Regions from separate parts of the Homo sapiens genome. Here all the other regions are linked to region 1. Evidence: fine-mapped QTL for protein levels in blood plasma. A gene starts in region 1. Each other region holds a variant in brackets. All regions are shown on one strand. Distances are between the middles of the regions.

Region 1 (7,933 bases):
CAGCCTGGTGACAGAGTGAGACTCTTCTGTCTCAAAAAAAAAAAAAAAAAAAAAGGATATGAATCAAAGGACACTATCCAGAGAGTGAATAAAAGGAGGACAACCCACAGAATGGGAGAAAATATTTGTAAATCATTTATCTGATAAAGGACTAATATCCAGAATATATAAAGAATTCCTACAATGAACAACAACAACCACCAAAAAAACCATGAAATCCAACTCCAAAAATGGGCAAAACACTTGAATAAACATTTCTTCAAAGAAGATATATAACTGGCTGATAAGGACATGAAAAGATGCTCAACATCACTAGGCATTAGGAAATGCAAATCAAAACCAAACCACAGTGAGATACCACTTCACATCCGTTAGAATGGCTATTCACAAACAAACAAAGCAACACAGAAAACAATAAATATTGGTGAGGATGCGAAGTTGAAATTCTTGTGTATTGCTGGTGGGAATATAAAATGGTTCCGTCACTGTGGAAAACAATTGGGTCATTCCTCAAAAAGTCAACATAGGATTACCATATGATCCAGCAATTCCACTCCTAGGTATATACCCAAAAGTACTGAAAACAGGGACTCTAACAGAGTACACCAATGTTCACGGCAGCACTATTCCACTAAAAGGTGGAAACAGGTCAAGTGTCCATCAGTGAATGGATGTGGATAAACAAACTGTGGTATGTACATACAATGGAATATCAATCGGCCATAAGGAGGAATGAATTCTAACATATGTGAACCTTGAAAACATTATGCTCAGTGAAACCAGCCAGACACAAAAGGGCAAATATTGTAGGGTTCCAATTACATGAAATATCTAGACTACGTATATTCAGAGACTGAAAGTAGAATAGGATAGAGGTAACCAGGGGCTGCAGGGAGGGGGAGCTAATGTTTAATGATTGCTGAGTCTCTCAGATAATGAAAAAGTTCTGGAAATAGTGGTGATGGTTACACAATATTGCAAATGTACCTAATGTCATGGGGTGTACACTTAAAGACAGTTAAAACAGTAAATTTTACATTATGTATATTTCACCACATACACACCCATGTTGCCAACTTTGCAATCCTCCCTGGTCCTAAATGCTGACTTGGCCAAGTGAACGAGGAGGCTGGAAGTGGGGACAGGAAACTCATGACCTCCCAGCTCCCAGCCCATCCGCCTCAGGGGCTGGGCTCAGCAGATTCCAATGACTACCAGGGGTCACACCTGGGAAGGGGGTGAGCCGAGGCCCAGGGCCAGTCAGGCTGACCAGGTGGGACTTAGCCTGCTGCAGAAGGCAGAAGGTGCCCCAGCAGGGGGCACAGTACAGGGCGGGATTGGGACAGGAAGGACACCGCTCCCCAGGGGACCCAGCCCTCTCGCAGGCTGCTGGAGTGGACTGATCTGGCCATTTATGGAGGCCCAAGGGCTCATCTCCAGTTCTCTAGGAAGCCCTAGGCCTCCTCCTCTTCTGGGAAGATGCACCCCCAGCCTCCACACCAGGTTCTTGGCCACTGGAGAATGATATAGCTGGGGCCCTGGGACCTGGACACCTCACCGTGAAGAAAAGCAGCCTGCTGGGCACACTGGGGGTCAGATGTGTCCCTGGCCACAGGGGATGTCAGGGTCAGCTCTGCTATGGCCAGGGCAGCTATCTTGTCCCAGCTCCCCTGTTCCTCCCATTTGGGGTCCTGAAAAGGGCAATCGTGAACCTGATGGAAGAATGGTGGGGTTCTGGACACAGCGACCCTGGAACAGGGCGCGGGGGAGGACCCTTTCCAGGACCACTCCCATCACATAATGTAGAGGCCACCTATGCTTAGCCCGGCCCTAACCCCAAAGGGGTCAGCCCCACCGGAATCCAGCCTATTGGCTCAGCCTGTCACCACAAAGGCCAGCTTCAGCCCAGATAACTGTTCTGGAAACAGAAAGAGCAGGGACCGCTCAGAAAGGAGATCTCTGTCCCTGTTTGAAAGCCTGGAGTTGAGGGGACAGTGCCCCGCCCCCCGCCCCCCGCAACTTGGGTTGCAGCTGTGGCCTAGTGAGCACGCAGCGCCCCCTGGTGGTCGAGGGGGAATTGCGGGTCCCGGGAAAGGGGGCGGTGTGCCAGCAACAGGGAGCAGGCAGCTCTGCAGCCCTGAACCATCCCTCCCTTGGGTGACTCTTTTGGAAATCATTGTTCCCCAGACAGGAGGTTCCTGAGGTTCATACTTGGGTCTCCAAGTCTTGGGTGCTCTGAAGACAGGATTTTAAATCCCCACTCCTACTATTGGTATGTGTTGCATCAGGGTGGCTTGAGCTGGCCTGGTACACAGTGGGCACTCACGTTTGCTGCCTGTTTGAGACCAAGTGCCTCAGGAGGTCTTGGAGGGTTGGCTGGGGCCCCAAGTCCCTGACCTCTGATTCCAGAGGCCAAGTTTAGCTGGGGAAGAAAGGGCAGAGGCAGTTTCCCTATGGACAGCTAGGCCCGGGTGTAGGATTCAGTTTCTGTTTCCTGACACCAAGGCTTCTCCCCAACTTCCCCATTGGGCTAGAGAAGGAAGAACACAGGGTGACATGGCCAGCTGGAGGTTACTGGCCCACAGATAGGGAGTCAGGGTACGGATGGGCAATTCCTGGAGCAGATTATGGTCAAAATAGTGGAAATCCCCAATCACAGGCCAAATGTTTAATTCTCAGAGCCATAGAATCCATAACTAATGCTTATTGGCTTTGACATGGGCAGTAGAAATTTCACACTTCATTCCTTAATCTGGCTCTAAATGCTTCTGGCTGGAGTGCTCACTCTCCAAACTGTGCTGGACAGCACCAGAAGCCCTCCTGTGGACGGACGAAGTGGTGATGGATGAAGTGGAATTGTGCTGGGGTTAGAGTAAGGAGAGATTATCGTTGGGCTGGGCTGGGGCTGAGGTCAGGGTGATGATCAGGTTGGAATTCTGGAAGCAAATTAAGGCTGGGATTGGGGTGGACATTGAGGTTGAGTGATGGGTGGGGGTAAGGGTGAAGGTTGGAGTTGGGTGCAGGTGATGGTTAAGATACGGTGGAGGCTGGGTTGAGATGAGGATGATAGAGTCGGAGTTGTGGTTAGGGTTGGGATGATGGATGGTTGGGATTAGATGAGATGAGTAAATGGTTAGGGTTGGGGTGCAAGTGAGGTGAGGGTGAGATAAGGTTGGAATAGGGGCTGGGGCTGGGGCTGAGGTAGGGTCAGAGCAGGGTGATGGTCGGGACTGGGATTGGGATGCAGGTTGGAAGGATTTGGGGGTGGTGGAAGGGTTTCAGTTGAGTCCATCTTTGATTAGTGTCTTGGACTTGGGTTGGTTTGGGGTCCACCACTCGCACCCAGATGGAGCCCCCCCCCGACCCCTGCCCCTATCCCGCTCAGCCAGTTTCAGCCCAGCCCCGCTCCTAATGCTCCACTCACCCTCTGGGCCCAGGGACCAGGGACAGGGGTACCTGCTCCACAGAAGGAAGTGGCTGCGGCGGTGCTGGACCTGCGGAGAGGAGAACAGGAAGGACGGCCAAGAGCTCCTGGTGCAGCTGGCTCCCCAGGGCTCTGCCGGCTCAAGAGAGAAGGATCCCGTATCAGGGGCTGCTTCCTCTTTCCCAAAGCCTCAGCTCTACTGTCCAACCCAGAGGCTGGTCAGGGAGGCAGCTGCAGGCCTTGCGCAATGCCAAAACGGGAAAGACCTCCATAGGGGAAGGCCCTCGGCAAGGCCAGGGACTTAGGGACTCCAGCAAGCAGAAGTGGGACCGCTGCAACGCTGGAGCCTCCCCAGGCAAAGTGAGAAATGGAGTGGGGGACTCCCATTCACCAGCCAAATCCACACCCCACTCTCTCTGAGCCCCTTAGGGAGGCTGGGGGAGGTGGAAGGGGGCTTCCTGCACACAGCTCTCCTCCCTGACACCTGAGAGGGAGGCGCGCCCAGCCTGGGGTGGGGATGCACTACACGATGCCCAGACCAAGGCAGTTATTCTCCAAGCCATTCAGGAGCCTCCCTGTACCACTGAGTACTCTTAAGAACCCCCAAGAGGCAGTCCCGTGTTGTGGGGGACATAAGGCCCCAATGTCCAGGACACTCCTCAGGTTTTCTCTTTCCCCTCTCACTGTCCTGTACGTTTTTTGGTTTTTGGCTTCTTGTTGTTGGTTTTTTTCTTTTTGTTTTGTTTTTGCTTTTGAGATGGAGTCTCACTCTGTCGTCCAGGCTGGAGTGCGGTGGCACAATCTCAGCTCACGGCAACCTCCACCTCCCGAGTTCAAGTGATCATCTTGCCTCAGCCTCTCGAGTAGCTGGGATTACAGGCATGCACCACCACATCCGGCTAATTTTTGTATTTTTGGTAGAGACGGGGTTTCACCATGTTGTCCAGGTTGGTCTTGAACTCCTGACCCCAAGTAATCTGCCTGCCTCGGCCTCCCAAAGTTCTGGGATTACAGAGGTGAGCCGCTGCACCCGGCCACTATCCTATACCTTCACCCCCACCTTGGGACAGGAAAGGAAAGCCCCCACCACAGCTAGTTACTGTTACATTACTGCAGCCCATCTTATTGAGGGCCTAGTTTGTGCAGGCACTTGACATGTGAAGCAGATGTTAATTGCTCCAAGCAATCCCAGATACAAGCAACAAGACTTTTTTTGGTTTTTGTTTGTTTGTTTGTTTTTGTTTTTTGAGACAGTGTCTTGCTCTGTCGCCCAGGCTGGGGTGTCCTGGTGCAATCTTGGCTCACTTTGGCTCACTGCAGCTTCGAAATTCTAGGCTTAAGCAATCCTCCTGCTTCAGCCTCCTAAGAAGCCGGGATTACAGGCGCTTGCCACTATGCACGGCTAATTTTTTAAGTTATTTTGTAGAGACGGAGTCTCCCTATGTTCCCAGGCTGGTCTCAAACACCTGGGCTCAAGTGACTCTCCCACCTCGACCTCCCAAAGTGCTGGAACTACAGGCGTAAGCCACCACTCCTGGCCATTTTTTTTTTTAATTTCACAACTCAAACTTAATTCAACTCAGTCCCTGCCTACCTGTACTGGTGGGGAGCTGGCCACAGCAAATTAGGCCCCTGTACCCTGAGGGCAAGGCCACGTGTGCAGGTGTAAAAGGATGTGAAACCCTAAATCAGGGTGGATCCAGAATCGCAGGCCATGGTGCCCCAAAGCAGATGTCTGGTGACATTCCACCCTGAAATGCTCAGGCTACAGAGATATTAGGTCTCTATCACTCTGTTCCTCTTTATAGCTCCTGTGTCCACTCCTATGCTTGGGCCATTTCCTCTTTCGGCCAAAACACAAAGGGTTCATCCCATTACTTCCTCCCTCAACAGCTGGTCCGGAGACACCCAGCTCTAGGCCTGTGGGGTTGTGACACATGGGTACCAATCCTTCAGTCCACTGGGACTCTATACATCCACCCCTTGGCTTCATGGTGGGAAAGCATCCCTTGACTTTGACCTTAGTCATATGACTTGCTCTGGCCAATGGATGTGCACGGACATGACACAAACTAAGTCTTGAAACGTACTTAAGCAGTTTGCCTTTCCCCCTGAATTTCTGTCATTGCCATGCAAGGGGCAGGCTCCAACTAACCTGCTGGTCCAAAGAGGATGACGAACACATGCAGATGACCTGAATCAGACCCATGGATTGAAACAAAACTCAGCTGAGCCCAGCCTACGTCCACCAGACCAGTCAACCTGTGGATGCGTGAATTTATTGCTGGATGCTGCTGAGAATTTTGTGGCTACATTAGCAAGATGATACAAGGCCTAAGTCCCAGAACAACACACCCAGAACTTGCTTACCTTTCCTTAGCATGAGGAGAGCAAAGACTTGTCTACCTTGATTAGTCAGGGAGCACTGCTTCCTGTCATTTCCTTGAGTATACAGCAAACTAGGTAAATAAATAAAAATAACTAGGTAGGCTGGGCACGGTGGCTCACGCCTGTAATCTCAGCACTTTAGGAGGCCGAGGTGGGCAGATCGCTTGAGGCCAGGAGTTCAAGACCAGCCTGGTCAACGTGGCGAAACCCTGTCTCTACGAAAAATACAAAAATTAGCTGGGCCTGGTGGCAGGCGCCTGTAGTCTCAGCTACTCAGGAGGCTGAGGCACGAGAATCGATTGAACCCGGGAGGTGGAGATTGCAGTGAGCCGAGATCACACTACTGCACTCCAGCCTGGATGACAGAGCGAGACTCTGCCTCAAAATATTTTAAAAAATGTAATTTCTCAGTAGGTCACACTGTTACACATTCATCTAATAACAATTATTCTTTTTCTTTTTTTTTTTTTTTTTTGGAGATAGGGTCTCACTGTCACCCAGGCTGGACAGGCTGGAGTGCAATGGCACAATCTCGGCTCACTGCAACTTTGACCTCCTAGGCTCAAGTGATCCTCCTGCCTCAGCCTCCCAAGTTGCTGGGACTACAGGTGAGTACCACCAGACGCAGCCAATTTTTGTATTTTTTTGTAGAGATGGGGCTTCACCATGTTGCCCAGGCTGGTCTCACACTCCTGAGAGTTCCCAGTCAAGTGATCCACCCACCTTGGCCTCCCAAAGTGCTGGGATTACAGGTATGAGCCACCATACCCAGTGAATTATTCTCGTTCCAGATAGGAAAACCAAGTCATAGGGAGGTTAGAGAATTTGCCAAAGACAAAACTTTTTGGTTGAAAAAAAATAAGTTTTGCTACAAGTATAGAAAACACCAAATAACGGTGTTTTAAATAAAATAGAAGTGTTTCACCCTCTCCCTCAAGTAAGTGTTGGCATCCAAGATGATATGACAACTCCACAATCATGAAACTAGATCCCTTTTTATTTTTTGGCTCAGTCATTGTCAATGGGCTGCTTCCAGTCATTGTCCAAAGTGGCTGCTTGCGCTCCAGCCACTGTATCTGCATTCGGGAAAGCAGGATGGAGGAAAGGACAAAGTAGGCCATGCCCTCTACTTTAAGATAACTCCTTAAATTGCTGATGTGGTGGGTCACTCCTGCAATACCAGCCACTCAGGAGGCTGAAGCAGGAGGTTCACTTGAACCCAGGAGCTTGAGGCTGCAGTGAACTATAATTGTGTCACTGCATTCCAGCCTGAGTGACAGAGTGAGATCTTGTCTCTTAACAACAACAAAAAAGGTAATTCTTTAAATTGTACACTTTATTGCTGCTTATATTCCACTAGAAGCTAGAAGTTAGTCACATGGTCTTAAGTCTTTATTCTAACAGGTGATGTGCCCGAGTGAATCCTGGGGGCCCAGTGCTAAGAAGTAGAGGGAGATGAAGCCCTGCCCTCCTGTGGAGCAACCAGGACCTTAATTCAGTCATTCATTCCTTGGACCTACCCAGATTCCAGCCTCAGGCCCCTGCCCACCTCCTTGCCAGTATCTCTGCAGAGCCTCCTGCCTCCCCCAGAGGGTGCCAGAGCCCTCTGCTTCCTCAGCCTTCAGACCCACTTGCTGTGTCTCAGGTGGGGACAACTCAGTCTATAGAGGCCCAAGGGAGATCTTTGAGACCCATACTGTAGTCAGCTTGGGGCAGATGGGAGTCATGTAGCTCACTGGCTAAAAGCCTAGGTCCTGCATAGAGCTGGGTTCAAATCCAGGCATATCCATCACCTGCTCTACGATCCCAGGAGTCACTCAATGACTCAGAAGCTAGAGTCCTCTGGAAAGCTTGTATGAAGAGTTCCCAGGGCCTGGAACATCAAAAGAGCTCTGAGAATGTTGGCTCTGCTGTTGCTTCTCTTATTGGGTATCTGAAGGCCGTACTCTCCTCTCTCCTCCACCCGAGGTGACCTCTACTCTCATAGCCACACCCTGGACCCTCACTCATTCAGTCACCTCACCCAGTCTGTCATCTGTCCCTCTGGCTCTCCTCTCCTGTTCATGCATCTTGTACTCACCCACTTCTGTCCCTGAGTGTTTCAAGGCTCTGGGGTTTTCA
Region 2 (7,933 bases), 22 kb before region 1:
CCCCAGACAGCCCCCAAACATCTGGCTGCATTTGACTTGCTCTCTCCCTGTCCCACCTCTGGATTTAGTCCATGTTCTCCACCCTCCCCACTGTCAGCAATGTAGACAAGACAAACGCTTAGTTCACGTGCCCACCTACTGCGTGCCATGCACGGGGCTGGTCATTGTGGGTGGCAAATGTGAGCAACACACGAAGCCTCAAGGAGCAGAAAGGGACACAAATCACTTCAGCGTAAGGTAATTTGTGATAAATGTCATGTAACTTGCAGCCCCTGGCCCCCTCCTACAGATGGTGTCTAAGAATAAACCCCACTAACATGTGACTCCTCTGTTCTAGCCCAGCTGTTTGGGTTGCAAGAAAGAGACTCACTCCAGTTGCGTCATAGGATGGAGTTTTATTGGGAGGACATTCTGGACGGGCTCCCAGCAAGAGTCTGGCAATGGAGCATGAAAATGAATGAGCCTGGAATGAGGGAGGGTGCGGCCTCGGCTACACAAAGTTCACCCGCCCCCAACTGCCTCCCAGCGTGTTAGCTCCTGTGGCAACTCCCCACTTCTCTCTCTGTTTTTCAACCCAAATCCTAGAGCAGAGGGCTCTTCGCTCCTCACACCATCTCCACCAGGCTGCAGGGGGAGTCACTAGCCCACTCAAGAGCTCTCTCCTGTTGGTCCCTGATTCGCAGGGGCACGTCATTCCTTCTTGGTAACTCATTCTCTTTAACAGCCCGACACAGGGTCTCCAGGAAAAGGACAGGAGCTCACACAGTCATGAACAGAGATGCATCTGGAGCAGGAATAAGGATGCTGACAACATCTGTGTCTGCCCTCCACTCTTGTAAGGGCCAGTAAGGTAGTACCCAGTCCCTGGGGGTAGGGGGGGTGGTGGTGGGAATGAGGGCATCTCTTCTTTCAGGGGCCAAATCTGGCACAAGGATGTCTGCTTAGGCAACTCCACTGCCTGGCATGCTCTCTCCCTAGGAAAACACCAAACCTTTTTTATTTCCTCAGTCTTAGTGTGAGAGTGATCACCTCTTCCAGGAAGCCCACAACCAGAATGGCCAGGGGCACACCCTGGCCCTCAGTAGATGGGCACTGAGACAAAACATGGCCTGCTGGTGGCATTCCCAACAATGTCAAAAGTCTCAGGGATGAGCTCACAGTTGGGAGTCCTTTGGAAGTCCAATTCCAAATGTCCTCTGGACTCAAAATAAAAACTACATTTCCCAGTCTCCCTTGTAGCTTGCAGTAGCCATGTGACAATACTCCAGCCAATGGGAAGTGAGTGGAAAAGTCCTGTGCAGCTTCTGAGTTGCGTCCACCATGGGCATGGGTGTGCTTCTACCTCCACTCTTCCTTCTTCTGGCTGGAGGGCATGTGGACAAAGCGGGGCCATGGTGAGCCTCACAATCAAAGGCATCATTTTAGGGATAGAGAAAAGGAAGATAGAAGGATCCTGAGCCCCAACATCATAAACCATCGTAACAGCCAGACTAGCGTGGGAGAGAAAAATAAAATTCTATCATGTTGAAGTCACTGTATTTGGTCTCTTGTTAGAGCAGGCTGACTGATACTCTGTTGAATACAGAATGCCTTGGTGAGCCTCTGAGGATGCAGGATGCTGCAATCCAACCAAAGTCCAGGGTGACTTTCGAGGAGAAGGATGTGAAAGGGCAGGGCTTCCTTTGAGGGAGAAATGGAGAGAAGGGAGGAGATCCAGAGAAGAGAGAGCGAGATCAGCTCAGTGCTCTTCAGTGTCCTCCAGGGTCAACACCCTCCTGGGCAGACCTCTCACCACCCATTTTTGGGGGGGCAAGAGGCTTGGGGCCAGGTCATAAAAAGTCAGATGTCACAGAGCTGTTTTCGTAGAGGCGGGCAGGACTCAACACTGCCTCATTCACATTCATAGGCTGGAGTCATCACAGATTCTGGCCACTTTCTCCTCCGGAGGGCAGGCAACACCACTGGTCAGCCCAGGGGTGGGGCACAGGTTGAGGTCTCACATGTGGCTGCATCAGGATCAATGAGCTTCCCACAGAGAAAACCCTGGTCACAGGAGGCCTCTGGGAGCCAGGGCAGGCCCCCAGGCCCCCAGCCTCAGGTGGGGTCCCAAGAGGATTGGTGGGAGTGTGCATGGCTGGAAGTGTGACTTGGAGCCCTGGCCTACCAGGTGAATCAGCTGCAGAAGGGACACACCACAGGGGAGGAGAAACTGACTTTCACTTCTGCCCAGGTGACGGGCAGGCTTGGGAGTGGGGAAGAGGCCTCAGAACAAAGGTGGGGGAGTCAGAACATACGTGTCTTGGAAATGGAGGGGATGCTGCCAAGTCCAGAAAGTCTCCCCTAGTCCTCTAAGCCAGCCGCCAGCTGACACAGGGATTCCCTCTGCCCCGAGCAGAACAGGGCTCTCCTATCTCCTGAGGGGCTCCTGGTTCCCTGCACACTCTCCCCAACCTCCCCTTGGTCCCAGGCACCATCCTCTAAATGACAGCAGTCTCCAGATGCCAGTTGGCACTGTGGGTTAGCTGGGTATTATATCTGCCCGTGTGTGTTGAATGGATACCTGCGTGGTCTCTTTCTGAAAAGCCATCTCCACCGAATTCTCGCCCATGCTCTGCTTACAAACACGCCTCCTTCTGCAAGGCCCGGAGTGGACTCAGAGAGCCTCTCCCCTCCCCACCTCCTGCCCCCATTCCTCTCCCGCTCCCCACAGGCTGGCTCCAGACCACAAGAGCGTGGGAACCTCATGGAGAGTGGGTGCTTCCTCTGTCTTCCTCCCTAGCCCTTGCTTTAGCACAGCCAGGGCAGAGAGGAGGAAAGAAGGAAACTACAGCAAGGAGGATTTAGGGACAATTCTAGAAGGGATTTCCAATTTGGAGGGGCAGTCTGGGAAGTAGGCAGCCTGTGAACTTAATAGGAGGTCCTAAAGGACCTGGGGGAATTTGGGGAGAAGACGAGGTGGGCTGCCTTACCCCAATCTTCTGGCCCACTCCCAGCTCCAGACCCACCTCCAGGTGTAGCAGGCCCCCAGGCCCAACAGCAGGAGCAGGAGGCCCACCAGCAGTCCCAGGACCCAGAGCAGCTGCTGGAACTGATGCAGGCGGTGCAGGGCTGGAACACAGAGCGGGACTCAGAGCAGCCACAGCTGCAGGCCCCCAGTGCTTCCTTCCAAGGGGACCCACCCAAGATGACACCTTCTAACTTTTGCTTTATCGCTGAAGCTCTCCACACAAGGGTGCCCCGAGCAATCAGTTTAGAGTCGACAGGCAAATCATGCTGCAGCAGGAGGGATACAGGGAAGGAAGCCTTTGGGCCTAAGAGCTGGGCTTTTGTGCAGAGTGGCCTGGGAGATGGAGCCCCCTCCCCTCACCTCTGACCCCAAAGTAGGTGGAGGTAGAGGCAGAGCCCAGGACATTTGAGGCAGAACAGATGTATTCCCCTTGGTCGCTGGGCCTCAGCGCCTCGATGTCCACCCTCAGGGCATTGGGGGAAGCCAGGACATGGATGTGTGGCTCTGCAGGAGCACCCTGGGGCTGACTGGAGGCCACCAGTCGACTGCCAAGGTGGAGAGTCAGGCTGGCGAGCGGCTCGCTGTCCACTCGGCAATCCAGGATGCCCCGGAGGCCACCCTCAGGCTCCACGAAGACCATCATGGTGGGCGTCTTGGGAGGGTCTGTGGGGAGGAAGGGAGTGTGGTGATTGCAGACAATGACCACAAATTTCTCCCTCCCTGTACCCATGCACAGTGACTTTGCTGCTCCTCCCATTAAGAGGCAGAACCTATTTCCTCACTCCTTGAATCTGTGACTCAGTTTGACCAATTGAAGAAAGAAGTGATGTTGTGCAACTTCAGAGCCAGACCTCAAGAGGCCTTGTAGCTTCTGCTCTACTTGTTGGAACACAACAATGTGGGAAGCCCAGGCCAGCCTGCTGGGCACATGTGGCCCAACTGGCAGCCAGGAGCGTGCAGTCATCTGAGACCACTGGGCAACTGCAGCCACATGAGGTGTGAACAACAGAAGAACTCCCCAGCTGAGCCCAGCCCACAGAATTGAGCAGATAACATGACTTTTGTTTGAAGCAGTAAGTTTTGTTGTGGTCAATAGCAATAGCTGACTGATACAGTGTAGGCCTTGGTGAAGGCTGGAGTGGGAGACCAAGACTGATGAGGGCTTATCGTGTGCCAGACACACTCAGCACGCTTTATTTCTTTTGGTTTTTTCTCTTCTTTTCTTTTCTTTTTTTTTTTTTTTTCTTGAGACAGAGTCTCAGTCTGTCACCCAGGCTGGAGTGCGTTGTGGTGATCTTGGCTCACTGCAACCTCCACCTCCCAGGCTCAAGTGAGTCTCCTGCCTCAGCCTCCTGAATAGCTGGGATTACAGGTGTGTGCCTTCATGCCGTGCTAATTCTTGTATTTTTAGTAGAGACGGAGTTTCGCCATATTGACCAGGCTAGTCTTGAACTCCTGACCTCAAGTGATCCGCCCACCTCAGCCTCTCAAAGTGCTGGGATTACAGGCATAAGCCCCTGCACCAGCCATTTATTTCTTATACAACTTGCAGGATGAGGCGAATGATGTATTCCCCATTTTACAAGGTCACCCAACCAGACAGCGGGAGAGCCAGGATTCCAACCCAGGACTCAATATCCGTGAAGCCTTCACTCTTGGCAGACAGAAGAGGAGGAAGAACTGAGGTGGGCGTGTGAGATGTGGGGAGACTAAGGCGGAGGAGGGGGTTCACACTCACAGAGCACACGGAGCATGACTGGAGCAGAGGCAGCAGCCCCAGTGGGGAGCTCAGCCAGG[C/T]AGTGGTACATCCCAGCTTGAGCACGAGCCACGTGGGTGAAGGCGAGAGTGGGCACAGGCTCCGCGTGCAGCCGCCGGTCATTCCAGAACCATGCAAAGGTGGAGTTGCCCACAGGCCCAGGGCCACCCAGGAGGCGGCAGCTGAGGTTCAGGGCAGCGCCCTCAGGCACGTCCAGGCCAGGCTCTGCCACCACGCGTGCACCTGCGGGCGGAGGATAGAGAGATGATTGGGGATCTGTAGGCCTTGGGGGCTGGAGCCTCTGGGTGGGACCTCTGAGGGGCCTCTGCACATTGTGGGAAGGTCTCAGTCTGACTTGGTATAGGGCTTTCCAAGGTGGAACCATGCCCCCTCCAGTGGGAGCTGTGCCCCCTCCACCAGATTAGGCTTCTCAAGGCAGAGCTTTCTCAGACCAGACAGCCCGCTCTAGTGGGAGCTCCAGCCCCTCTCGTGGACTTGGACCTGAGAGCATCAGAGCCCCTCCTCCTCCCCTCTCTTCCACTCACCTTCTACCTGCAACCGCCCGATGGTGCTGATTGAGCCCAGCAAGTTTTGGGCTGTGCAAACATAGGTGTCATCACCTGCAGGCACATCTTGCACCTGCAGCCGTAGGGCGTTTCGGGCCACCTGGACATGGCCTGTCCCTGATGCCAAGCTGTGGACCCCGCTGCTCGTGGCCAGCACCTTGCCATCATGAGATAGGGCCAGCTCAGCAGGTGGCTCACTGTCCACAGTGCACTGTATCACAGCCATGGATCTGGCCCTGGAGTCCCGGAAGGAGGACAGGACAGCGTCCTGAGGGGCATCTGTGGGCAGGCAGGGCACAGATGGGGACCTTGCTTAGGCACCCTGTACTGCTCATTGCCTAGCTGCCTGGGGTTGGTCAGGCTGAGGCCTCTGGACCAATGGCCACTTCCTAGAAGTGACACCTTCCCAGGAGTCCTGTGGGCAGAGTGCTCCAGGCAGGGCTTATAGGACTGTCTCTTTCTCTAGCACCTATGTCCTCTTTCCCCAACTGCCCATTCCTGGGCCCACTGCAGTCCTTTGCCCACTCCCACCAGAGCCCAGAAGCACCCTCCACCACCCTCCTCCTGGGCAGCCCTGGCCAAGGACCCTCTGCTCACAGAGGACTTGCAGGGCAGCAGGACGGGAGCTGCGGGTGCCCTGGGCATCCTGGGCCTGGCAAGAGTAGGCGCCTGCATGAGCCCGCGTGGCCACCAGGAATGAGAGTGAGGCAGCTGGACCCTCCTGCAGCCAACGACCGTTGTGGTACCAAGTATAGAGTGTGGGTGCGTGGGCAGCAGGGTCCGCACAGGTCACTGTGATGGGGGCACCTTCAGGCACGGCAGCCTCCGGAGCCAGGATCACCCGCACACCTGTGCCAAGGAGGCCAGGATCAGCCGGGCCCAGCCGGACACCACAGTGGGCTTCCATCCCAGTGGGCTTGGCCTAGGCCCTGCCTTACCCTCCAGCCGCAGCTCCAGGGACGTGTTGGCCTGGCCCAGAGGGCTGCGGGCAGAGCAGCTGTAGAAACCCTCATCCCTGGGCTGTGGCCCTCGCAGCTCCAGGCGCAGGGTGTTGGGGACAGAGGCTGCTGTCGAGGAGGCCAAGAGGCGACCGGCGTGGCTGAGGGCCAGCTGGGCGGGCGGGCGGCTGTCCACAGTGCACAGTACCAGGGCCAGCTGCCCGCCATGGCTCTCCAGGAGGTAGGTCAGGCGCAGGTTGCGGGGCGCGTCTGCAGGGCATGAGAGGCTTACACGGAGTCACAGGCAGCAGCCTGCAGGAGGCCAGTTTGCAGGTGGCATTCAAACTCAGGAGGGCCCTGGCTCCCCACCCCTATGGCTCCCAACCACCCAGTCTGAGGCACTGCTCCTCTGCCCAGACAGGACTCACCCCAGCGCCCCCTACTCTTAATGCTCCTTGCCCAGTGCTCCACTAGCTACTGGGTACCGAGTTCCCCACTGGACACCTGTCGGGTTCCGGCCATGCCGTGATCCCTGTGGGCTTCTGTCATTCCTGTGAGTCCCACCCTGCATCCAGCCAGACTCACAGAGGACGTCCAAGGTGATAGGTCTGGAGAGGCGGGGTGCCCGACCAGGGGGGCCCACACCGCAGCGGTAGGAGGTGGCATCCCTGACTGTGACGTTGGGCAGGGGGATGGAGTGGGCATCCAGGCGCTGCTGCCCATCCTGGTACCATGTGTAGGTGAGCTGGGCCGGGTGAGTGGTCCACACAAGGCAGGTCAGGTTCACCAGCTGCCCCTCCCGCACGGTAGCCCCGGGCCACACCTGCACATTCACAGCTGGGGAGAGGGAGGGCACAGGACACCAGTGAGGGTCTTGAGGCTGTGTACAGCAGGCCACCTGTCTCCATGTGGGTGAGCTACTCCTACTGCTGGGGAGCCCCTTGGCCTTTGGGAGCCTTGGGTGGCCCACCTATAAATGTGGCTTAGAAGTCAAGCTTGGGAATAGCCCACTGGCTCCTGAGTGGTCCCAAGTAGAGTTCCACAGAGTCCTGGAAAGCCCTGAGCCCCTCCCTGACCCTGGCTGGGGGCAAATGGGGAGACCACAGACCTCCCCTCCCCTGCTGCACTTTCTCCTGAAATTCCCTGTTTAGTTTTATCCACTGGGCATACTTGTAAAATTTGGTGTTTATAAAAGGTTCTCCTAAGAAACTCAAGTCTGGAGTCCACCATCGTTAGGAAGGGTGGGAATGGGGACTATTCCCGTGCCCCCAGGCTTCTAGAACCCTGTCCCACCTCCTCTCCTCTTTTAAAGGACACACACACACACACACACACACACACACACACACACACACTGACCTTGAGCGTCGAAGTCAGCTGAGGCCGAGGCCTGGCCCAGGGTGTTGGAGGCCTCACAGATATAGACACCCTCATCCTCCAGCATAGCCCCGTGGATCTCCAGACGCAGTGTGTTGGGGGCCACAGCCACATGCAGCCTGGGAGAGCTGCCTTCGGGTCCCCCCACACCTTGTAGGGTGGAGGCCACAAGGCGATCCCCGTGGAGCAGCCGCAGCTGGGCCGGAGGGTCACTGTCCACACGGCACAGGAGGAGGCCCAGTCGTCCAGGGCCTGTGTCCATCAGGGTAGTGAGTGTGACGTGGCGTGG
Region 3 (7,933 bases), 13 kb after region 1:
AGAAACAAAGATAAAGTATATTGTTTAGAGGAGTGATGTTCAAACTCCAGAAAAGGCTGGGCGCGGTGGCTCATACCTGTAATCCTGGCACTTTGGGAGGCCGAGGTGGGCAGATCACTTAAGCCCAGGAGTTTGAGACCAGCCTAGGCAACATGATGAAGCCCTATCTCTACTAAAAAAAAAAAAAATACAAAAAATTAGCAAAGCATGGTGGTGCACACCTGTAGTCCCAGTTATTCAGGATCTCACTACTGTACTCCAGCCTGGGTAATGAGAGTGAGACCCTCTCTCAAAAAAAAAAAAAAAAAAAGAAGAAGAAGAAGAAAACTCCAGAATATATAAAAATGAAAAGAGGGCGGAAGAGTGGAACTGCGGGGTAGAAAATTTTGCATTTTGTTTCATCTCTCTGTATATGTTGAACTTTTTTTTTAACCTACATGTACTACGTCATATCCACAGCCCCCAACCATCCACCAGGCATCAACTGCTGTGTTTATATGGAGGGTTGAGCAATCATTCCTGCCTCCTTCCAGTTCGTCTTCCTGTACTGCAGAGGCTAGAAAACTAAATTTATATCACCCAGATTCCCTTCCAGCTACCTTAATGCTACCACCTCATTCAGCCATCATTGATTCTCCACTTCACCAAACTGGTCAATAATTGTCTCTTCTAAAAATATTAGAATTGGGACTAAGAGACACTACAGCTGACCCTTAAACAACATGGGTTTGAACTGTGCTAGTCTGCTTATACACAGATTTTTAAAAAAATAAACATATTGAAAAAAATTTTGGAGAGATGTGACAATTTGAAAAAACTCACAAACCACATAGCTAGAAATATCAAAAAAAAAAAAACTGAAACAGAGTTAGGTAGGTCAGGAATGCATAAATATATATGTTAATTGGCTGTTTATATTATTAGTAGGGCTTCCAGTCAACAGAAGGCTATTAGTAATTAAGTATTTGAGTCAAAAGTTATACACAGATTTTTGATGATGAGGAGGATTAGTGCCCCCAACCCCCATGTTGTTCAAGGGTTAGCTATATTTGAAATCTGCTGGTAGCTGGAATTGGGCAACTAAATTCACGAGATGTGGAACGGTCGTATACATGGAGAATAAATAAATAAATAAATAAATAAATAAGTATTTGTTGGCCTGGTGCAGTGGCTCATACCTGTAATCCCAACACTTTGGGAGGCCAAGGCAGGCAGATGACTTGAGGTCAGGAGTTCGAGACCAGCCTGGCCAACATGGTGAAATACCGTCTCTACTAAAAATACAAAAATCAGCTGGGCGTGGTGGTGTGCACCTGTAATCCCAGCTGCTTGGGAGGCTGAGGGATGAGAATTGCTTGAACCTGGGAGTCAGAGGTTGCAGTGAGCCGAGATTGCACCACTGCACTCCAGCCTGGGCGAAAGAGTGGGACTCTGTCTCAACAACAACAACAAAAAAGCAATTGTTAAAAGAATAAGAAAACAAGCCACAGATTGGGAGAATATATTTGCAAAACAAATATCTGATGACCCAAAATACACAAAGAACTCTTAAAACCCAACACTAAGAAATCAAACAACCCCATTAAAAAATGGACAAACGGGCCAGGCATGGTGGCGGTGGCTCACATCTGTAATGCCAGCACTTTGGGAGGCCGAGCAGGGCAGATCACCTTAGGTCAGGAGTTCTCAACTAGCCTGGCCAACATAGTGAAACCGTCTCTACTGAAAATACAAAAATTAGCCGACCGTGGTGACGTGCATCTGTGGTCCCAGCTACTTGGGTGTCTGCGGCAGGAAAATAGCTTGAACCAGGGAGGTTGCAATGAGCTAAGATCGCGCCACTGCACTCCAGCCTGGGCAACACAGTGAGACTCCGTCTCAAAAAAAAAAAATGGGCAAAAGATGTGAACAGACACCTCATCAAAGAAGATATACAGATGGAAGATAAGCATATGAAAATATGCTTAACCTGATGTCATTAAGGAATTACAAATTGAAGCAACAAGGTACCACTAAACCCCTATTAAAATGGTCAAAATCCAGAATGCTAAAAACACCAAATGCTGGTGAGGATGTGGAGTGACAGGACTCTCATTCGTTGCTGGTGGAAATGTAAAATGGTATGGCCATTTTTAAGACAGTTTGGCAGTTTCTTACAAAACTAAACATAGTCTTACCATACAATCTAACAATTACACTCCTAGATAGTTACCCAATTGAGGTGAAAACTTATATCCAGGGCCGAGCACAGTGGCTCACACCTGTAATCCCATCACTTTGGGAGGCCAAAGAGGAAGGATTGCTTGAGGCCAGGAGTTCTTTCTTTTTATTTATTTATTTATTTATTTTCTTTTGAGACAGAGTTTCGCTCTGTCACCCAGGCTGGAGTGCAGTGGAGTGATCTCATCTCACTGCAATCTCTGCCTCCCGGCTTCAAGCGATTCTCCTGTCTCGGCCTCTGAGTAGCTGCTGGGATTACAGGTGCACGCCACCATGCCCAGCTAATTTTTATATTTTTAGTAGAGACAGGGTTTCACCATGTCAGCTAGACTGGTCTTGAACTCCTGACCTCAAGTGACCTGCCTGCCTCGGTCTCCCAAAGTGCTGGGATTACAGGTGTGAGCTACTGTGCTCAGCCAAGGCCAGGAGTTCCAGACCAGTCCTGGCAACACAGTGATACTCTGTCTCTACAAAAAAAAATTTTTTTAATTAGTCACATGTGGTGGCACACACTTGTAGTGTCAGCTACTGGGGAGGCTGAGGCTGAGGATCACTTGAGCCCCAGGAGTTTGAGGTTGCAGTGAGCCACGATTATGCCTCTGCACTCCAGCGTGGGCAACAGAGTAAGAGAAAGAAAGA[G/C]AGAGAGAGAGAGAGAGAGAGGAAGGAAGGAAGGAAGGAGAAAAGAAACGAAAAGAAAAGAAGGAAGGAAGGGAAGGAAGGGAGGGAAGGAAGGGAGGAAGGAAGGAAGAAAGAAAGAAAGGAAAGAAATAAAAAAGGAAAAGAAAAGAGAGAGAGAAACCTTATATCCATACAAAACCCTGCGCAAGAATGTTTATAGCTGCTTTATTCATAATTGCCAAAAACTGGAAGCAACTAAGAAGCTCTCCAATGGGTGAAAGGATAAACAAACTGTGGTATATCTGTGCAATGGAGTATCATTAAGTAATAAAAAGAAGACTTAGCAAACCACAAAAAGTAATATGCATACTAAATATGCATTTAGTAATATTAATATGCATTAAGCAATAAAAAAAGACGTGTCAAGCCACAAAAAGTAATATCCATATTACTAAATGAAAGAAGCCAGTCTGAAAAGGCTACGTGCTGTGTGATTTCAACTATTTGACTTTCTGGAAAAGGCAAAACTACAGACAGTAAAAAGATCAAGGGTTGCCGGGGGTTCTGGGGACAGGAAAGGATGAATAGGTGGAGCACGGGAATTTTAGGTCAGTGATATTATTCTATATGATACTATAATGGTGGATCCATGATATGCTTTTGTCAAAACCCATAGAAAGTACAACACAAAGAGTGATTCTTAATGTAAACTATGTGCTTTAGTCAACAATGTATTGATATTAGTTCATTAATTTTAACAATGTACCACACTAATCCAAGATGTTAATAATGGGGAAACTGCGTGTGAGGGAGGGGATACATGGGAACTCTGTACTACAGCTCAATAATTTTATAAATCTAAAACTTTTTTTTTAAATAAAGTCTCTTAGAAAACAATAAAAATAAAATAAAAAGTCAATTTTTTTTTTTTTTTTGAGAGGGAATCTTGCTCTGTCACCCAGGCTGGAGTGCAGTGGCACAATCTCTGCTCACTGCAACCTCTGCCTCCTTAGTTCAAGCGATTCTCCTGCCTCTACCTCCCAGGTTCAATCAATTCTCCCACCTCAGCCTCCCAAGTAGCTGGGACTACAGGCATGCGCCACCACGCCTGGCTAATGTTTGTATTTTTAGTAGAGATGGGGTTTCGCCATGTTGGCCAGGCTGGTCAAGAACTCCTGACCTCAGGTGATCCGCCCGCCTCAGCCTTTCAAAGTGCTGGGATTACAGGGTTGAACCACATGCCTGGTCTAAAATGTCCATTTTTAAAAGGCAGTCTGGCTGGGGCAGTGGCTCACGCCTGTAATCCCAGCACCATGGGAGAAGGCTGAGCAGGGTGTATCTCTTGAGCCCAGGAGTTCGAGGCTGTAGTGTGCTATGATGGTGCCACTGCACTCCAGCCTGGGTGACAGAGTGAGACTCTGTCTCTAAAATAAATAAATAAAAATACAATAAAATTTTAAAAGGCAATCTGCAGCAAGAGAAGATGAAGTTAGCAGGAGAGCAGGACAGAGGAGAGTCCATGAACAACAGGGAGAGGAAAGTGGTCATGGTGGCAGCTCCCAGGCTCCTGGCATATGTTCAATTCCCTGTTCCCAGCCCTCAGGAAGCCCAGATGTCCCCACCTGCCCCTACATACAAACCCTGGATCCTTGACATCAACTTCTCCTTTCCTTCATGTGCTCTAATGAGTTTTTGTTACTTGTGGAACATTTAACTAACATCATTAACCAAGTGGACCTGTCTCAGAGTGGTGTTATGAGAAGACAGCAGCCAAAAGACAGCTGCAGCCAAGCACAGTGGCTCATGCCTGTAATCCTAGCATTTTGGGAGGCCGAGGTGGGTGGATCACCTGAGGTCAGGAGTTCGAGACCAGCATGGCCAACATGGCGAAACCCCCTCTCCACTAAAAATATAAAAATTAGCCGGGTGTGGTGGCGAGCGCCTATAATCCCAGCTACTTGGGAGGTTGAGGCAGGAGAATTGCTTGAACCCAGGGGGCAGAGGTGGCAGTGAGCCGGGATCATGCCACTTCACTCCAGCCTGGGTGAAAGAGCAAAACTCTGTCTCAAAAAAAAAAAAAAAAAAAGACAGCTGCAACAAATGTCAAGTTCTGTGTGTTTTCTTTTCTTTTCTTTTTTTTCTATTTAATTAATTTATTTTAGAGTCAGAGCCTCCCTATGTCACCCAGGCTGGAGTGCAGTGGCACAGTCACAGCTCACTGTAGCCTCAACCTCCTGGGCTCAGGCGATCCTTCCACCTCAGCCTCCTTCCTAGCTGGGACTACAGGTGTGTGCCACGACATCTGGCTTGTGTGTTTTCTTTTCTTTTTTTTTGAGACGGAGTCTTGCTCTGCCACCCAGGCTGGAGTGCAGTGGCGCGATCTTGGCTCACTGCAACCTCTGCCTCCTGGGCTCAAGCAATTCTCCTGCCTCCGCCTCCTGAGTAGCTGGGAATACAGGCGCACACCACCATGCCCAGCTAATTTTTGTATTTTTAGTAGAGACGGGGTTTCACCATGTTGGCCAGGATGGTCTCGATCTCCTGACCTTGTGATCCACCTGACTCGGCATCCCAAAGTGCTGGGATTACAGGCGTGAGCCACTGCACCCTGCCTGGCTTGCATGTTTTCTGACATACTGTCAAAAGGATACTCATACTAAATGGCAACACATTCTCAAGCCCCTTCCTTTTCTTCTCCTATCTGCTTTACCACACACCATAGCTGCTTTTACCGTTTTCTCCTTAAAAACTCAAAAAAACCTTCCCCCAACCTATCTATCCACTTCTTGTCCTCCCCTCAAACCCACTCCATTTTGATTCTGCATCATAAAAACCAAGCAGAGTTCTGGGGAGGCAGAAGCCTCCTCTTATGATATTGGAAGGGGGTGGATGAAATTGAGCACACAAAGCCAGAATCCTCTTTTGTGGAAAGATGGGGGCAGTGGGCAGAGGGAAGCAGGCTCATCTCTTTCCCTCTCTTCCCTTCCCTTCTCTTTCACACCACACGCTCCGCCTGGGTGAGCTCATCGTCCTCGTGTCTTCAATTTCCACCTCCAGGAGATCGACTGCCAAATTTCTACCCGCAATCCCAAACTCCACTCTGAGCTCCAGACCCATCTACTAATTGCCTAGTCAACATTTTCTCTGTGGGATCGAATCAGATAGGATTATATTCTGCTGTGACTAACAGAGACTGAAAATTCAGAGTCCTAAACAAAAGACTTTCTTTTTCTTGTGCTGAAAAGTCTGGAAGTACACAGCCCTAGGCTGGAATAGGGATACTGCTGGGGGGCTCCGCCTCCTTGCAGGCTGCCCCTCTGCTATCTCCAGGGTGTGTCCCTCAACCACACTGTCCAAAGTGGTGACTGAAGGACCAGTCCTCCCACTGACATTCCAGGCAACAGAATGGAGAAGAACAGGCTGAGGAAGGAGGAACCACAGGCGCCCTCCAGCTGTTTCAAGGAAGGTTCCTGGAAGATGCTAAATAACAATTCCGTTTATATCTCATTAGCCAGGCTTAGTCACGTGGCAACACCTAGAAGCAAGAAAGGCTGGGAAATATACTGTTTCTGCTGGGTTACCGTATGCATGACTAAAAAGAGAGCGCTCTGTTCTTAGGAAAATGAGAATAGACTGGGTTGGGGGAGGATAACCAGCATTGGCTACACTGCAGCCCCACAACCTCCTCATGCTTGATGTGGCTGAAATAAAAAGAGCATCTCCCCCTAACATTTCCTTTCCCTTAGTCTTGTTCCTTTTCTGTACCCCATACCCTAGCAGAGGGGCAATTCTGTGGGGTGGGCTCACTGGCAAGGGGAGGTCTCACCCAAGCTCAGTCAAGGGTGAGCAGAGAGAATTGTACAAGGAAGCTGAATTTCCAGCTGGTCTGGAGGAAACACTGAAAACCCCAAACAGAAGATGTCCAGGTGGAGCAAATGCAGCTGAGAGTTCTTGTCCAAGGGGACAGAATGTCAGCAGAGTAGGACACAAGGGCAGGTCTCTACTGAAAGCACCAGGGGCAAAGTCACCCAGCCCTTCAACCGGCTGGCCACCAAGCACATCGGCTCCACTCTGCCTCCTGCCCGTGCCACCCTTTGCACTTTTGTCTGTACCATCTCCTCCACCAGGAGTGCCCTTCCCGCTCCTCCATGTGGTATACTCTCAGCCACCCCTCAGGCTCAGATCCAGAGCCACCTCCTCCAAGAAGTCTCCACCTGTCTGCTGGGAACCCTCACATCACACTGGGAGACGAAGCCAAAAGTGGGGGGGTCAGTACAGAGGTGTGGGAGGTAGGTCCAATCCTGGCTGGACCTGGCTTTGGGTGCCATTTGGGACAGGGTATTGGGGAGGTTCAGCAGGAAGGTGGGACCTCAAGGCTTTCTTTTTATGAAGGAGGAGGAACCAGCTGTTGACAGAGCAGCAACAGCAGGGAGCCACCAAGGCTGAGCCTTGAACCCTGGGCCACCAGGCTCCTGCAGGCAACTGGGAGCAGCTCAGCCTCTCACAGTCCCATTTCCAGGGAGGAAGATGATGCAGCCTGAGGCAATTGGCCACCTGGAGGAAGTTCAGCTGGGTGGGGCAGGCAGAGGAATTCCTGGAAGGAAGCTCACCCCTCAGCACTGGGGTAGAGGGACACTAGAGACAGGGGTGGCCCAGGAGCTGCCCACCTCCTATCCCCATGAATAAGCAGGTGGGCCCGGGTGACCAGCTGGGAGCCACCCCTGGGTGCTCAGGTACCATGCTTCTGGCCCAGCCTCCTGAGCTGTGGCACAGGCAAGAGCACCGGCCCACGGGGTCTGCATGGGGCAGTGACCTGTTCTCTCTAAGCTTCAGCTTTCTCATCTGTAGAAAGAGGGTGAAGAGTCCTTCCCCACCATGGTTGTGGTGAGGGTAACTGAAGTGTCAGGGTAGGGGACCCAGTGGGGCACCAGCACACCTGAGGTTCAGTCAACAAGGCCCACTGGTGAAGAAAACCTCGCCCACCCTCCCGTCCCTCCTGAGGCAGGTGGTGGAGGCACATGCCCTCTCCATTGTGTGTGCATGAGTGTGTGGGTGCATGCATGTGTGTGCATGCAAGTGTGTGTGCATGTGTGTG
Region 4 (7,933 bases), 21 kb after region 1:
GAAAACAGCGGGCCTGGGGAGAGGCTGCTCCTGGGGAGGACCTACTCAGAGGCTGATTCTTCCTCGTGCTACCCCACCCAGGGAGATGCAGGAAGCTGGTGAGGTCAGTGGGTGGGCCCACAACCATGCTGGAGAGGAGCAGGAGGGAGACGGGAGGGCACAGAGAGGTAGAGGGCAGGGACTCTGAGGACCCTCATCCATGCCCACCTGGACAATTGAATCGAGCTTCCTCTAGTGTGGAATGTGGGCTCACTGGGGCTATTTGCTATCCTTCTCTCATGTCAGACTGGATGCGGCCCAAGGGTGGGGTCTGTGACTCCCTCATCAGACTGAGGGGGGCCGAAATGTGGGGGTGGGGGAAGGAGGGAGCTTCCAAACAGGAAGGTTTGGAGGGCGCTGGCACTGAGGACAGGGGATACGCCCCCCATGAGTCTTCACCCCTGCTCAGAGCCTGCTGCCGTGGCCCTCAGAGACGAGCCCATCTTTGGAGCTGGAGTTGGGGACAGGGAAACCAGGTGGAAGGGAAAAAGAAAAAAGGGGCAGGCATGAGTGTGAGGGGCCAGACCCTGCAGACCCCAGGACATGCACAGCAGACACACACTCCAATCCCTCCTGGCTCTGCTCAGCCTCAAACGAGGTGCAGGCCTGCAGGCCCCAACCAAGGACCCCTGTTACACACAGACACAAAGACACAAGATGCAGCAACACACACACGTAATACAGAAACACAGTCACACACTAGCGCACACACAGACACAGTCAGACAATCCAAGAAACACACTCACACATGAACAGACATATAAGCAAAGTCTTACACATACAAAGACACACTTAAGCACAGACACAAACACACCAACAGATGCACAGACGGACACACATAGACGCACACTGGGAGGCGGCCTGTGGAGACTGCTGATTGGATACCATGTTGGCTTGGTATCCAGAATTGTTGGTGCAGCGCACTCACCATGCCTGACCTCATTAAGGAGGCCCTCTGGGGCAGTGGCTCTGAGAAGAAAGGCAGCAAGCCTAGGGAGGTGACACTGTAGCTGGGGAGCATTTTGGCTGGGCAGAGAGGAGGAAGGAGAGCATTTCAGGGAGGGAAAATAGCCCTTGCAAAGGTTTGGAGTGGAAGAGCAAAAGGGATGTCCCAAGAACTGTGCCTCATTTGATGGGGCTGTGGGGCCCTTCTCTGACGGGCAGCCTTCCCAGGCACAAAGGGAGGTGGACTGAGAAGCATCTGGAACTTCTGTGGGGGCACATGGGGCAGAGGGGAAGGGGAACAGGCAGAACGAGTCAGCTGCCTTTGAAAGCTCCACGAGGGACCTAGCAGAAATTCATTCATTCATCCGTTCATTCATTTATTTATGACAGGTTCTCTCTCTGTCACCCAAGCTGGAGTGCGGTGGTGTGATCACACTTACTGCAGCCTCAAACTCTTGGGCTCAAGCAATCCTCCACCCCAGCCTCCTGAGTACCTAGGACTACAGACGTGAGCTACTACACCTGGCTAATTTTTAAAACTTTTTAGAGACAGGGTCTCCCTTTGTTGCCCAGGCTGGTCTTTGTTGCCCAGCCAGCTTCAAGCCATCCTCCCACCTCAGACTCCCAAAGCGCTGGATTACAGGCATGAGCCACGGGTTCCCAGCCCAGAAAGAGACCTTCACCCCACAAACCCCCTGTCTGGAGGCCAAGTCCCAGCATCCCCAGAAGGGCCCCGGTTAGGACAAGAAAAAGGCTGTGTGCCTCGGAGGAGAGGCTGGGTGCCCCCTGGTGCGGAGTGGTCCCCTTGCCGGGCATGGGGCCTCAGTCTGTGAGACTCCGCGCCTCCGTCGTCTGAACTTGAGCAAAGACAGAGCTAGGCCTAGCCTGGGGACCCGAGGGCCTGCCCTCATCCGCAATTCTGCCTCTTTTCTGGCCACTGAGGACCGGGCTAGGGAAGCTGTAGGGGCAGTAGGGGTGGGAGGAGAGAGGGTTCCGGGTCAAGGGACTGGAGGGGTCTGGGGCAGGGAAGTGGAGGGGTCTAGGGCGGGCCCTTCCCCCTCCGCTGTTGGGCCCTCGCTGAAGGGGCCGAGGCTGAGCCCCAAGGTGGGCCTGTGGGGGCGGGGCGGGGGAGCCCCTCAGCAGCTGGACCGCAGGAGGCCGACCAGGGTCTGGAACTCCTCTTCCCCTCCCTCCGCCGCCCCCTCTCCCTTCTCCCACCCCCTGGGCTGCTAGGGGAGCGGGGGAGGCGCAGGAGGGGCTCAGGGAGGGGCCCTGGACGCGGGACCAGGCTGGGCCCCTCGGCGGAGGCCCGCGCAGGCAGGCCCCGCCCCGGCCTCGCACATCTGGGCCGGGAGCGCGGGCCGACCCGGCGGCGCAGGCGGCGCGGCCATCCGGCCTGGGGGAGGGGGCGGCGGGCGGGGTGGGCGGCGCGAGGAGGCGGGAGGCCTCAGGGCCGGGCGCACGTCGAGGGCTGCGGCCGCCGCAGCGGGCACGGCCAACGAGCTGCGGGCCCGGGATCGCGGCGGCTGGACGGGGCTGGAGCTGTCGGGAGGGCGGAGGTGAGTTCTGGGGCGGGGGCTGCCGGGCGCCCCGAGTGGAGAAAGGCGAGGAGGTTTGCCGTCCCGGGCTGTCGGCTGAGACCCCACCAAAAACCTCCAGACTTTGTCTGGTGGGGACAGATCTGCAAGCCCCTCTCTGCAGCGTGGCTGCGGGCTCGGGAAGGCACTTGGGGCAGCGACCTTGGTCTCCCACCTGGGCTTCGGGGGACCACCTCCCCTGTCCCTCGCACAGCTGCTCAGAGGCTTAGGCTGGAGAAACTCCTGTGTCTTAGGGGCTGGCAGGACTGGTGTGGGCTGGGGCCTGCTCCAGGGAGCCAAACTGAGGGACCCGGTGCCTAGGTCTGAGGTGGAAACCTGGGAGTTGAGTGTATGTGTGTGTGTTGGGGGGTGCCTCAGGGGTCCCAGGCCCTGTGGTCCCGAAGCGCAACAGAGTACTGAGTGGCCCAGGTGCCAGGGTCTGAGGCTGGGACCTGGTCTTCCGGGCCAGCTTGAGGTCCAGGTGGGGTGGGGTCCAGGTTCCCGCTAGGGCAGTGGAGCCTATCTGTGAGGTTAGCGTGTGTTGATGAGAGAGACTGGAAGGGAGTGATCACGAAACTAGGGACCCTCCGGAGAGCAGACGCAGCGCAGGAATCCCAGGCCAGAGGGGTAATGGGGGGCTGTGGGCAGAGCATGGGAGGGGCTCTGTTGTTTGTGAACTGGCTGCTCCCATGATGAGGACCCAAGGGGGTGCGGCAGGATGTATGGAAAGCAAAGATGAGGACAGGGAGGGGCCATGGGAGGCCATTTCTGTCACTCCCTGCCCCAGCGCAGGATGGGGCAGCCACCTCACTCAGCCACACATGGTCCCATCTTCTTAAGGGCTCCTCTCCAGAACAGAGTGGGGCAGCCCTTTGGGTGCCGTTTCTGATCTGTGCTTTGGGCCCTGGTTGGCCCAGTCTGTGGCTTGGAAGAAACGCCTGTGGCCTCACTTAGCCCGCTGACGGAGTCCTGTTCCATTACAGGGCTGGCTGGGTGCTGAGCAGAGAGCAGCAGGCGGAAGAGGCAGGGTCCTAGTGAGGAGGGGAGCTGGAATGACCTGGGTGGGCTCTTTGTCTACACAGGCATCGTGTGGAGCCCTGAAACCCAGAACACTGCATTCCCATAGTGCTCCTGGGGACATGAGCGCCCAGCTGAAACACCCCACACAGGAAGAGATCCTCCGAGGATTCTGTCAGGCAAAGGGTTGGGCCCCTGCAAGGTGGCTCACGCCTGTAATCCCAGCACTTTGGGAGGATGAAGTGGGAGGATCGCTTGAGGCCAGGTGGTCGAGGCTGCAGTGAGCCGTGAT[C/T]GTGCCACTGCACTCCAGCCTAGGCAACAGAGCAAGACCCTGTCTCAAAAAAAGGAGCGGGAGTGGGGGCAGGGTTCGTCCTAGGCTATTGTAAGACCAGGGGATACTCTGGGATGGGAGTCTCTGGTTGTGAGTTCCTGCTGGGCCACACCCTATCCTGGTCCCCAGTGACTAATCGGCCCTGCCTATTGGGTAGAAGTCAGGGCCAGGGGTCAGGGTGAAGCTGATGACTAGAGGTCAATATGAAGCCAAGAGTTAGGGGTCAGTCCATGGGCAGGGTTAGGGATCAGGCTGGGGCCAGAGTTTGGCATGTGCTTGTAGCCAGGAAATGGAGTTCCTTTCTGTGTAAATCAAACTGTCCCACTCAATTACTCTCAAACCCATAGGCACCACCAGTCTGAAATTAGTAGGCCCCTGAAGCGGGGCTCAGCCTCCCCTCATTTTCAGCTGTGGACTCTGCCCAGACCTAGCTTTCGGGAGCTGGGCTTGTCCCGTGTTCTGTGGTCAGCACTCTCCTTAAGTGTCCCTGGGTGTGTGTGCTCGCTTGGCAGTCAGCCACCTCTTGGCTTACCTCCACCTCTCGGGGAATCCGTGGGATCCTCCTTCTTTAACACAATTTTTTTTTTTTTTTTTTTGGAGACAGGGTCTCACTCTGTCACCCAGGCTGGAGTGCAGTGGTGTGATCATGACTTACTGCAGCCTCAACCTTCCGGGCTCAAGCAATTCTCCCACCTCAGCGTCCAAAGTGGCTGGGACTCTAGGCATGCACTACCACGCTGGGCTAATATTTGTATTTTTCGTAGAGATGGGGTTTTGCTGTTGCCCAGGCTGGTCTCGAACTCCTGAGCTCAAGCAATCCACCCACTTTGACCTCCCAAAGTGCTAGAATTACAGGCATGAGCCACCACACCCAGCCCTTAACACAGATTGATTTAGTTCCTACCTCCTTCCTTAAAGAACTCATGATGACTAGAATGCGATTCTCAGTAAGACCAAAATATCTAACAAGAAAATTCAGAATCTGCATCATGAAGGGAAAGAACACTGCTCAAACCTGCCCAACTCCCTGCTTTTATCAATACCTTGCATATCTGGACTTGTTAACATAAGCCCTCTGTGTCACCCATTCTACAGGAAAGGGCACTGAGGCACAGAGATGTGGCATGATGCACTCACGCTAGGTGCCATAATAGGCTCTTGCCATCCCTGAAACCCCAGCATAGGGGCACTCAGCATATCGCACAATGAGAGACGGTAGATAACTGGACAAGCTTCCGATAGCTGGGAAGAGTATAGGCCCATGGTTTGGATGTGGAATCCAGTGTAGAGCGAGGACTCAGTCTTTTTTTTTTTTTTTTCTTGAGATGGGGTCTCACTCTTCTCGCCCAGGCTGGAGTGCAATGGCGCGATCTTGGCTCACTGCAACCTCTGCTTCCCAGGTTCAAACGATTCTCCTGCCTCAGCCTCCTGAGTAGCTGGAATTACAGGCGTCTGCCACTACGCTTGGCTAATTTTTGTATTTTTAGTAGAGACAAGGTTTCACCATGTTGGCCAGGCTGGTCTCGAATTCCTGACCTCAGGTGATCCACCTGCCTCAGCCTCTGAAAGTGCTGGGATTACAGGAGTGAGCCACGGCGCCCGGCCCAGAGTCTTTTTTTTCTGGTGGTTCTAGGTTGTTTCTCCTCCAGATACAATAGCCTCGGTCCAGAAAATCCATTCATTCATTCAACAAAGTGGTTCCCCAGTGCTTAGCACAGAGCCTGGCATGAAGAATCTCGATAAGTGTTTGCTGAAGAATCAGAACAACATACAAATAAGGCTGCCAGCTCCTCCCTCGAGACCTTGATCCAGTAGTATGCTGGTTAATGGTTTCCAATCAGCTCTGGAAGAAGGATAAAATCCTGATTTATGGTGTTTGCCAATTTCTGTCTTGTAAATACTCCCAGCCATGACTGATTTGAAGCTACCAATGTGATGTCATTGAATGCAGAATTGGGAAGAGATAGAAAGAATCAGCTCGCATGAGCTGGTGGGACCCAGCTCAGCATCCCACTCCATCATCCTGAGCTGGGCTCTGGGCTCCTGCCCCTGGCTCCTAAGAACCCTCCCCTCCCCCTCTCTGTGCTTTCCCTTTTCTCCTCAACAGCCAGCTGCTATATGCATGCCCACAACCAGCACCCATCCTTCTTCTGATTCTGATTCCTGAGCATCCAACTCCAATGGTACAGAGGACAGCAAGAGTGTCTGGAAATCTCCATGGTGCTGGCCATGCAGGAGAATCCTGGACATACAAGAGTGTGTGGGAGTCCAGGTGTCTGTCCACAATGGGGCTGGTTTGTGTGAACTGTGTGAGCAAGGGTGTGTGCATGTGTCTATGGGCATGCCAGAGCCAGCTCTGTGTCTGCCTGTGTTCTATAGCAAAACTTTCAGATTGGGCCGCTGGTGACAGAGAAGGAATGCATTGGCCCTGCGTAGCCTCCTCCTTTGTTTAGAGGAGCAGCCAGGCCCACCAATGAGAACATAGTGTCAGTGGTCTGCAGACTGGCTGAGAGACACTGTTGAGCAACACTTCTCAAACTTCAATGTGCACCTGAATCACCTGGGAATCTTGTTAAAATAGGCCAGACGCGGTGGCTTACGCCTGTAATCCCAGCACTTTGGGAGGCTGAGACGGGCGGATCACCTGAGGCCAGGAGTTCGAGACCAGCCTGGCCAATATGGTGAAACCCCGACTCTACTAAAAATACAAAAATTAGCCAGGCATTTTTAGGTGGCATTTTAGGCAAATTAGGTGGCGCATGCCTGTGGCCCCAGCTACTTGGGAGGCTGAGGCAGGATAATCACTTGAACCCAGGAGATGGAGATTGCAGTGAGCTGAGAACTGAGATCACGCCACTGCACTCCAGCCTGGGGGACAGAGTGAGACTCTGCCTCAAAAATAAATAAATAAATAAATAAATAAATAAATAAATAAATAAATAAATATGAAATACATGTTCTGATTCAGCAGGTCTGGGCTGGGGCCTGAGGTTCTGCATTTCTAACAAGCTTCCAGGTGATACCAATGCTGCTGATCCTCAGCCCACACTTTGAGTAACAAAGCTGTTGATGGTTTGAAATATCCTGCCTATAGCCTGGCCCCAGAACTTCATAGACAGGATCGAGCCCCTCCCATCTTAGAAAATAAATATTCTTCCTCACCTCCCTTCAGCTTTAGCGCCCTCCAACTACTGCCCTCACATGTATTCCTGATTTCAGCCAAGCTTTTCAGAAATTCTAGCTCAATATGATTGCGTCACTACACTCCAGCCTGGGCAACAGAGTGAAACTCCATCTTAAGAAAAGAAGTTCTAGCTCATGTCACCTCTTGCTCACTCCTCACCTAAGCTTACCTCCCTTGGGCCACTAAAACAGTGTTTCCAGTCTCATCTGGGGACCTTTTACAGGGATCTAGCTTTACCCATCTCTTGGTACAATCTTCATGAGACCATGAGGCATCTCAGTCTCCTGGGCCGGTATATATTCCTCTGTTCAGCCTTTAAATGTAGGTTCTCCTCGTGACAGAGTGACACCCTATCTCAAAACAAACAAACAACGAAGGCCAGGCACGGTGGCTCATGCCTGTAATCCCAGCACTTTGAGAGGCCGAGGTGGGCGGATCACCTGAGGTCAGGAGTTCGAGAACAGCCTGGCCAACACGGCGAAACCCCGTCTCTACTAAAAATACAAAAATTAGCTGGGCATGGAGGCACTCACCTGTAATCCCAGCTACTGAGGAGGCTGAGGTAGGAGAATGGCTTGAACCTGGGAGGCAGAGGTTGCAGTGAGCCAAGATCGTGCCACTGCATTCCAGCCTGGGCAACAGAGTGAGACCCTGTCTCAGAAAAAAGAAAAGACAAATTGAGTCATGCCCCCACCCCACCCTGCCACCTCAAACCTTTCAAGATTTGCTGTTGCCCTTCATATAAAATCAAATCTGAAATAGGGTGCACAGGCCCTGCCTGCAGGGTAAGCCCAGCCCAGCCCTCTGTCCAGACTTACCATGTCCTCTTCCCACCCCGCA

Alleles and levels. Alleles are on the strand shown, and positions count from the first base shown. The strength of an association depends on the size of the effect and on how common the allele is.
As copies of C replace T in region 2, the plasma level of the protein whose gene starts at base 3,587 in region 1 goes up (moderate association).
For the plasma level of the protein whose gene starts at base 3,587 in region 1, allele C in region 3 goes with a lower level than allele G (strong association).
With allele T in place of C in region 4, the plasma level of the protein whose gene starts at base 3,587 in region 1 is lower (weak association).

What was found. PIP is the posterior inclusion probability: the model's chance that the variant is causal. Protein levels are from antibody-based Olink assays in UK Biobank. Linkage for the fine-mapping came from a reference panel and not from the study's own genotypes, which makes the PIPs less certain.
Region 2: its variant is fine-mapped to the plasma level of the SIGLEC1 protein (UK Biobank, PIP above 0.99). The variant lies in the coding sequence of SIGLEC1. If it changes the protein, the assay may bind it differently, which can mimic a change of level.
Region 3: its variant is fine-mapped to the plasma level of the SIGLEC1 protein (UK Biobank, PIP above 0.99).
Region 4: its variant is fine-mapped to the plasma level of the SIGLEC1 protein (UK Biobank, PIP above 0.99).

Annotation. Positions count from the first base shown.
Region 1 is chr20:3,709,014-3,716,946 of GRCh38, forward strand. It overlaps SIGLEC1 (sialic acid binding Ig like lectin 1), which reads right to left and starts at 3,587. Exons shown (of 22, transcript NM_023068.4): 1 at 3,457-3,587. RefSeq lists a silencer at 7,458-7,517 and an enhancer at 7,873-7,933.
Region 2 is chr20:3,686,595-3,694,527 of GRCh38, forward strand. It overlaps SIGLEC1 (sialic acid binding Ig like lectin 1), which reads right to left. Exons shown (of 22, transcript NM_023068.4): 13 at 7,627-7,933; 14 at 6,853-7,104; 15 at 6,268-6,537; 16 at 5,927-6,178; 17 at 5,309-5,608; 18 at 4,746-5,006; 19 at 3,368-3,670; 20 at 3,006-3,108; 21 at 2,561-2,633; 22 at 376-2,025. The coding sequence ends at 1,966. Among named protein-coding and RNA genes, the nearest start is that of ADAM33, 8.6 kb to the left of the region's middle. The variant C/T (reference allele first, on the strand shown) is at 4,805.
Region 3 is chr20:3,721,609-3,729,541 of GRCh38, forward strand. No RefSeq gene overlaps it. Among named protein-coding and RNA genes, the nearest start is that of HSPA12B, 7.1 kb to the right of the region's middle. The variant G/C (reference allele first, on the strand shown) is at 2,860.
Region 4 is chr20:3,730,252-3,738,184 of GRCh38, forward strand. HSPA12B (heat shock protein family A (Hsp70) member 12B) reads left to right here and starts at 2,434. Exons shown (of 13, transcript NM_052970.5): 1 at 2,434-2,543. RefSeq lists an enhancer at 2,496-3,075. The variant C/T (reference allele first, on the strand shown) is at 3,871.